Linked DNA regions of Homo sapiens. The protein of the gene in region 1 purifies or fractionates together with the protein of each later gene. This does not show direct contact. Each region holds a gene or a part of one and is shown in the gene's direction. Other genes may lie near its edges.

What was found.
Region 2: the proteins of TOGARAM1 (region 1) and CSPP1 purify together in Homo sapiens (co-immunoprecipitation; one large-scale study listed by IntAct). This does not show direct contact.

Annotation. Positions count from the first base shown.
Region 1 is NC_000014.9:44,999,184-45,004,622, forward strand, and holds part of TOGARAM1 (TOG array regulator of axonemal microtubules protein 1), read left to right. Parts: intron 1-179; coding exon 180-314; intron 315-4,877; coding exon 4,878-5,183; intron 5,184-5,439. UniProt on the Homo sapiens protein: Involved in ciliogenesis. It is required for appropriate acetylation and polyglutamylation of ciliary microtubules, and regulation of cilium length.
Region 2 is NC_000008.11:67,067,392-67,070,891, forward strand, and holds part of CSPP1 (centrosome and spindle pole-associated protein 1), read left to right. Parts: intron 1-708; exon of another isoform or gene 709-1,413; coding exon of another isoform or gene 1,414-1,466; intron 1,467-3,500. UniProt on the Homo sapiens protein: May play a role in cell-cycle-dependent microtubule organization.

The DNA of each region.
Region 1 (5,439 bases):
CCACTAATCTGATTTTCTAGTATCAAAAGCTGTATCCCTTTCTTGCCTGCCTACCTCACTGTACTTAAACACTTATATTTATTTCCACCTAAATTACACCAACATTTATGAAATAAAATGTATTCATGAAATAAAGTTAACTTTTGCTTTTATGTTTTCTCCCTTCCTTTCTTCAAAAGGTACTACTGGGACTCATCAAACAAATCTTTCTGGGAAATGTGCACAACTTGGATTTTCACAAATATGTGGTAAAACTGGCAGTGTGGGTTCTGACTTACAATTCCTAGGGACAACTAGCAGTCATCAAGAAAAAGGTATAAGTTCCAAATTTACTTGGAAACAAATGACTTATAAATATTATGTGGGGATTCCAACACTAACTTATATGATATTTTGTGTACTCATACTCATCACAAAAAATAAAAGGATTTTGTTATATTTTTAATAACTTTTTTCATAATTGTTACCCTAAAGTATTAGTTTTCATAATCTTTATATAAATACAACTGATTAAAATTAGAGTTTAGATACTCATGGTGGAGATGAGTATTGCATTTGCTTTGATATATACATAATAGTGGTACATATTTGTGGGGGACATGTGACATTTTGATATACAATGTGTAATGATCAAATTAGGCTATTTAGGATATGCATCACCTGAAACATTTGTCATTTCTTTGTGTTGGGAACATTACAAATCTACTCCTGTGGTTATTTTGAAGTACATAATAAAGTATTGTTAACTATAGTCACCTTATTGTGCTATACTGAGCACTAGATCTTACTCCTTCTTATTTTATTTTATTTATTTATTTATTTATTTTGAGATGGAGTCTTGCTCTGTCGCCCAGGCTGGAGTGTAATGGCAGGATCTCGGCTCACTGCGACCTCCGCCCCTGCCCCCGGGTTTTGAGCAATTCTCCTGTCTCAGCCTCCTGACTAGCTGGGACTACAGGTACACGCCACCACGCCCAGGTAATTTTTGTATTTTTAGTAGAGACAGAGTTTCACCATATTGATCAGGGTGGTCTCAAACTCCTGACCTCAGGTGATCCACCTGCCTCGGCCTCCCAAAGCACTGGGATTATAGGCATGAGCCACTGTGCCCGGCCTCTTATTTTATTTTTGTACGCATTAACTACCTTCTCTTTATTACCTACTTCTCACTGCCCTTGCCAGCCTCTGGATACCATCATTCTGCTCTCTACCTCCATGGAATTAATTTTTTTTCTTTTTTAGCTCCCACATAGCAGTGAGAACATGCAATATTTGTCTTTCTGTGCCTGACTTATTTCACTTAAGATAATGTCCTCCATTTCTATCTAGGTTATTGCAAATGACAGGATTTCATTCTTTATATGGCTCAATAGTTCTCCATTGTGTATATGTACCACATTTTCTTTATCTGTTCTTCTGCCGATGGACACTTAGGTTGATTCCATAACTTGGCTATTGTGAATAGTGCTGCAATAAACATGGAAGTGCAATACCTCTTTGATATACTGATTTCCTTCTTTCGATATATGCCCAGCAGTGGGATTGCTGGATCATATGGTAGTTGTATTTTTAGTTTTTTGAGGCAGGGTCTCACTCTGTGGCCCAGGCTGGAGTGCAATGGCTCACTGCAGCCTCGACCTCCCGGGCTCAAGTGATCCTCCTACCTCAGCCTCCCAAGTAGCTGGGACTACAGATATACACTACTATGTCTGGTTAATTTTTAAATTTTTTGCAGAGATGGGGTTCTACTATGTTGCCCAGACTAGTCTCGATCTCCTGGGTACAAACAATCCTGCCTCAGCCTCCCAGAGTGCTAGGATTACAGGTGCAAGCCACCATGCCCAGCACATTTTTAGTGTTTTGAGGAACTTCCTTGCTGTTTTCTATAGTGGCTGTACTAATTTAGCTTCCCACCAGCAGTGTACAAGCATTCCTTTTTGTTGCCATCCTTGCCACCATTTGTTATTTTTTGTCTTTTTGATAAAAGCTATTTAACTGGAGTGACATGATATCTTATTGTGGTTTTGATTTGCACTAGACCTCTACCTTTCACTGTATGCAAAAATCGAATCAAAATTTATTGAAGACTTAAATGTAAGCTGACGTTATAAAACTGCTAGAAGAAAACATTAGTGAAATACTTCAGGACATTGGTCTGGGCAAAGATTTCTTGAGTAAGACCTCAAAAGCACAGGTGACCAAAGCAAAAATGAACAAATGGGATCACATTTAGCTAAAAAGCTTCTGCATGGCAAAGGAAACAGTCAACAAAGTGAAGATACAGCTTACAGAATGGGAGAAAATATTTGCAAACGATTCCACTGTTGAGGGATCAATAACCAGAATATATAAGGAACTCAAACAATTCAATAGCAAAAAAACAAAAATACAATGTGAAAATGGGCAAAAGATCTGAGTAGGCATTTCTCAAAGAAGACATATACATGTCTAATAGGTATATGAAAAGCTCAACATCACTAATCATCAGAAAGATGAGCATTTTAATACCAAGTCATTGAAAATAACATTATCCATTAAAGAGTGTTGTGTTAGCAGATGACAATTATTTTCCGTAACAGTTTTAAATTTTAAGACAATTTAGAATGTATTATGTCTCTTATTAGGAACCGTAACTTCCTAAAAGCTACCCTTTCAGATAAGACATAAGATACAGAAGAGGAAAGATTGGAGACCGGTTATCAGTCAGGAATTTGGGGGTTGAAGGTGTTCTTAAATGTCCATGCTAATTAACAGCTTTAACAATTATTAGATAGAGGTAGGATCAAATTAAGTATTTCTTTAGGTATTTTAAATTTTATTGTATGTCCTTTACTAAAATTTGAGTGATAGGGATATACTTATTTATTTATGAAAAAATAATGATTTGAAATTAGTAGAGAAGATTTCGTGTATTTAGCACTAACATTTTAACTACCCTTTTTTGCACTCACCCCAAAGACCCACATAACTCCTTAAAGATATCCTTTGTGGTATTATCTGCATCACAAAATAATCCATCTTTCTTAATAATGTGGGTATTTCCTAAATTTTGACTCCTGAGTATCTTTGGGACTCATAATTGGTATAATCAGAGAGAGCTTGCTGTGCCACTTAACCTGTTCCTGTTTAGGCTATCCCTGAATAATTACATTGCCTTTGAGGACTATCCACTCTTAGTGTTTAGTCATATTGCACAGTGGCTCTCTGGTTTTCTATTGGAATAGTTATTAGAGAAGCTGGTATAAAGGGATACCACGTTTTTCTAGAATTTAACTTAATACTTGGTTATACATTAAAACCACTACCATCTCAATTAATATTCCCCTTGTGATCTTTGAAGGACCTATGGTATGGATGCAAAACAATATAGATGTTTGCATCCCAATTTACATATTGTAGTGATCCACACCAGGTGTTGGAAATTTTGGTGTATGTTGCATTGCATTGTTTTTATGTATATGCATAGTATGATAGGATGTTTGATTTCTTCATAAGAAATATTTTTAAATCTCGGCTGTGTGCGGTGGCTCACGCCTGTAATCCTAGTGCTTTGGGAGGCCAAGGTGGGTGGATCATGAGGTCAAGAGATTGAGACCATCCTGGCTAACACGGTGAAACCCCGTCTCTACTAAAAATTACAAAAAAACTAGCCGGACATGGTGGCGGGCACCTATCATCCCAGCTACTCGGGAGGCTGAAGCAGGAGAATGGTGTGAACCCGGGAGGCAGAGCTTGCAGTGAGCTGAGATCGTGCCACTGCACTCCAGCCTGGGCGACAGAGCGAGACTCCATCTCAAAAAAAAATAGAAAGGAAATATTTTTAAATCTCTAGGAATATATGAGACATTGTCATGAAAGCATCAGAACCTGTTAATAGAGCACTGTAATTGAAATGAGGAAACTGAAAGTTTTAATTCTATATGTAAATCTGTGACTAAATCTCCTATATCTCTCTACCTAGATAAGATTTTGGTATAAGTAGAGATTTTAACCATGTCAGATATGAATTAAAAAAATAAAGGATATATAATATATACAGTTGTTTAAGTCCTCAGAAGAATGTTTGCTTTATTAATATACGTACGCTAGGTATTTTGTCACGGAAAACATTTTTTAAAATATTAAAGGAAAACTTAAGGGAACCCCTAAAAGATTACAAATAGACTTTTTATATTCGTTGAAGAATAAAAAGATCAATAAAAGGCAAGGAAGAAGTAATAAAGAAAAAAATAATAAATAGTACAAAATAAGATGGTAGAATTAAAATCAAATGTATGAATAGTTTCCGTAAGTATAAATTGGCAGAACTTACAACTTAAATGACAGAGGTGATCAGATCTTGTTTTTTTAGTTTTTCATTGAAGTGATCTTTTTAAGAGCATTACCTAAAATACATCAAGATAGGTTGAGAGAAAGTAAAGCATGGAAAAGATACACTAGGCAAATGTTCAGAGAAAAGCAAATAGAAACATGTTGATGATAGGGAAAATATGCACACCAAAACTAAAAACATTTTTAGTTCTAGAGAGGATCATTGTAATGAGAAAAAGAATAATTCACTAAAGAAACAAGACTTCTCTGACATGTGTGTATATGTATACATATACATGCATGTATGTATGTAATTGATAAAATTACAAGGAGAAAGTTAATTTATAAATGTTAGTACAATATTTTAATGGGATAAAGAAGTTTTGAATTAGAAGATACAGAATATTTGAATAACACAAATTAAATTAGTCCTTTACCTCATACCATACAAAAATATACATGCCAATTGGGATGAAAACCTGAATGGGAAAAGCAAAAAGCAAAAAAGCTTTTAACTGTTAAACTGTGTATACATAAATAATATATTATCTTTTGTTTTATTACAGTGTATGCTAGCCTCAATTTTGGCAGTAAGACACAGCAAACATTTGGTAGTCAAACAGAGTGTACTTCCTCAAATGGTCAAAATCCAAGTCCAGGAGCTTACATCCTTCCATCCTATCCTGTCTCATCACCTCGAACTAGTCCAAAGCATACATCTCCTCTTATTATATCTCCAAAGAAGTCTCAAGATAATTCTGTTAATTTCTCAAATTCCTGGCCTCTTAAAAGCTTCGAAGGACTATCAAAGCCAAGTCCACAGAAGAAGCTTGTCAGCCAAAAATCGTCTGATCCTACGGGTAGAAATCATGGTAAAAGTCAATACTTTGTTCAAATTTATTTGTGTTTGAATTAGTACTTTGAAGTTAATGCATAGGGCTGTTAGATCTTTAAAAGCTAGTAAACTACATTTTATCTGTCTGAATTTAGTAAATATTTAGGAAAATATTTAATAGTGTGTTAAATAAATCAAATGTATAAAATTCAATTGAAATTCTCATTTCTTACATTGTCACTTAAAAATCCTTTTCAGAACCAGGAAAATAATGATGCTTTTCTTTGTTTGTT
Region 2 (3,500 bases), on another chromosome or scaffold:
GTATCAATTATTGATTATTTAAATCTCAGCATACTTTACGTTTGCAGGCTCTGTTTTTTTTGTTTGTTTGTTTGTTTGTTTTGGTTTTTGAGACAAGAGTCTCGCTCTGTCACCTAGGCTGGAGTGCAGTGGCACGATCTCAGCTCACTGCAAGCTCTGCCTCCCAGGTTCACTCCATTCTCCTGCCTCAGCCTTCTGAGTAGCTGGAACTACAGGCGCCTGCCACCAAGCCTGGCTAATTTTTTGTACTTTTAGTAGAGACGGGGTTTCACCGTGTTAGCCAGGATGGTCTTGATCTCCTGACCTCGTGATCCGCCCGCCTCGGCCTCCCAAAGTGTTGGGATTACAGGTGTGAGCCACAACGCGCGGCTGCAGGCTCTGTTTTTAAGAGGTAAATCTTCATATATGCAAAGACTGTAAAGATACAACCATAAACAATAAAAGAATTGATCTGTTGATTTCTTTTTTTTTTTTTTTTGACAGAGTATTGCTCTGTCATCGAGGCTGTAGTACAGTGGCGTGATCTGGGCTCACTACAGCCTCTGCTTCCTGGGTTCAAGCAATTCTCCTGCCTCAGCCTCCTGAGTAGCTGGGACTACAGAGGTGTGCCACCATGCCTGGCTAATTTTTGTATTTTTAGTGGAGATGGGTTTTGCTGTGTTAGCCAGACTGGTCTCAAACTCCTAACCTCAGGTGATCCACTCTCCTTGGCTTCCCACAGTGCTGGGATTACAGGCATGGGCCACTGCGCCTGGCCTGATCTGTTGATTTCTAAGTGTTAGGTTCTCTGTCATAATTTTTATATGCATTATTTTCTTTTTTCTTCATAATATACTAGAATAAATGATATTTCTGTTTTATAGATTAGGCATAGAGCAGTTAAGGAACATGCTTGAGGTCATTCATGTTGAGATCAATAAGTGATAGAAGTATATTTCAAACTCAGTTCTTTCAATTAAACTATTTTCCTGAAAACTGTTTATCATCTACATACTATGTACACAGCTACTGGAGAAATAATACTTGGCCATGATGTCTTGAAAAAAGTTGTGAGTGACTTTATATTGTAGAGTGTCATATATAAATAATCTCATTTAGGTTTCTTTCAGCTGATTTATTTTTGGCAACTTAATCCTTAAATTATAAACTTTCTTACTCTATATTGTACCTATGCCATATTTATTAACCCAGTCTCTGTGATTCACCAAGTAATTCTTGAATAATTGTGTAGTTGAAATATGTTTTCTGTAAGTTACCACATGCTTTTAGGAGTGAGAAAAAGAAAAGTGGCCGTGATATCTAGAAACTGGTATTGCTAGAAACTAGCCTGGCATTCACAGTAACTTTGTGTTTTTCTGTTGAAGATAAACTATTGTACAGAATGTCAACATCAGATAAGGCCGCTCTGTGTCTATGATGGATCAAGACAAAAACATTCCATCAGTGTCTCCAAACACAGACAAAACGTAAATATTGTCCAAGAACCGAGATACCAAACATTCCCTTTCCCAGCTGATGTGAATGACTACTGCTTGTTTACCAGTTACAGCATTAGCCTCCCCCTATATTTTAGATTTATTGAGTGGTACCATCATAGAATTAACCCCACTTCTAACAGTGTTCAATCCTGAGCAAAGCTCCACTTCCTCAAATTAAGCCTTCCCCCAAATCACCCAACACATATAAGTCTTTTCCAATACCCTCTTACCACGATACCACAGGGTTCCCCATGGTGTGTGTTCTCCGTGCATTCCTTAATGCAATGAGTAGTACATCCAACTTAACTGTGGTAGTTTTCCTGGTGTTCTTTGGCTGGAGATCATTACCAGGAGAAAGCTCATTAGTGTCTTTGACTCTTTAATATTAAAGTCATTATAATCTAATCAGATTAGATACAGGAAAAATTTAGAAATGATTAGAAATGTACTTATATCTCGGATAAATCTTATGTTTTAGTTATGGCATATGCTATATTTACTATGGTTGTTTAAAAGTATGTTTTATTTGTACTTTTTGTACTTTTGATTACTGTAAGTTAAAATCAGTTCTATAATTTATAATGTTAAATAATTACAGTAAAGAGAAAGATAAGCATCTATAAATTCAAGAGGGAGATCTTTCAAAGCCTGGTTAGAACAACATGTAAATGAACATGTTAAATTAATAATTGTTATTAGGTGGTATGGAAACCTTAGTTCCATGTGAAGGTGGCATGTTACTGTTTTTTTTTTCTTTTTAGATAAATGACATTTCTTTTTTTTCTTTTCTTTCTTTTTTTTTTTTTTGAGATGGAGTCTCACTCTGTTGCCCAGACTGGAGTGCAGTGGCATGATCTCGGCTCACTGCAACTTCCACCTGCCTGGTTCAAGCGATTCTCCTGCCTCAGTGTCCCCCGGTAGTTGGGATTACAGGTATATACCACCATGCCTGGCTAATTTTTGTATTTTTAGTAGAGACGGGGTTTCGCCATATTGGCCAGGCTGGTCTCGAACTCCTGACCTCAGGTGATCCACCTGCCTCACACTCCCAAAGTGCTGGGATTACAGGCGTGAGCCACCGCCCCCAACCTAGATAAATGACATTTCTGTTTAAATTCTGTGCAAAATTCTATAGCAAAATATATGCGTTATCTCATCATTTTATTCCTATCAGACATAGAATATTTAGGGAAGATTAGAGGATTTTGAGGATTGATTGTTTTAAACATGAAAACTTGTTTGCTGTTGAGTTCAGAATTTTTACTAGGAAAAATCTTTCGTGACTATTAGCAAATTAAAAATGGCTGAAATAAGTCGGGACGGTGGCTCACACCTGTAATCCCAGCACTTTGGGAGGCCGAGGCAGGCGGATCACGAGGTCAGGAGATTGAGACCATCCTGGCTAACACAGTGAAACCCTGTCTCTACTAATAATACAAAAAAATTAGCTGGGCATGGTGGTGGGCACCTGTAATCTCAGCTACTCGGGAGGCTGAGGCAGGAGAATGGCATGACCCCGGGAGGTGGAGCTTGCAGTGAGCCGAGATCGCGCCACTGCACTCCAGCCTAGGTGACAGAGCGAGACTCCATCTCAAAAAAAAAAAAAAAAAGCTGAAATAAGCTGAGTGTGGTTGCTGGCAGTTATAATCCCAGTGATTCTGGTGGCCAACATGGAGGATCACTTGAGCTTAGCAGTTCAAAGTTACAATGAACTATGATCGTGCCACTGCACACTAGCCTGGGCAGCAGAGCGAGACCTCATCTCTAAAAAACAAAAAACAACAAAAGAAATTGGCCAGAATTTATCAACTTTTGTTGATTTGAAGTATATTTTGCTAAAACTATATATGTAAATATATATATATATATATATTTCTATTTTTAGTGTTTTTTTTTGAGATGGGGTCTTGCTCTGTTGCCCAGGCTGGAGTACAGTGGCATGCTCATAAGCTCACTGTAGCCTTGATCTCCTGGGCTCAAGTGATCCAATCCTCCTGCCTCAGCTTCCCCAATAGCTGGGAC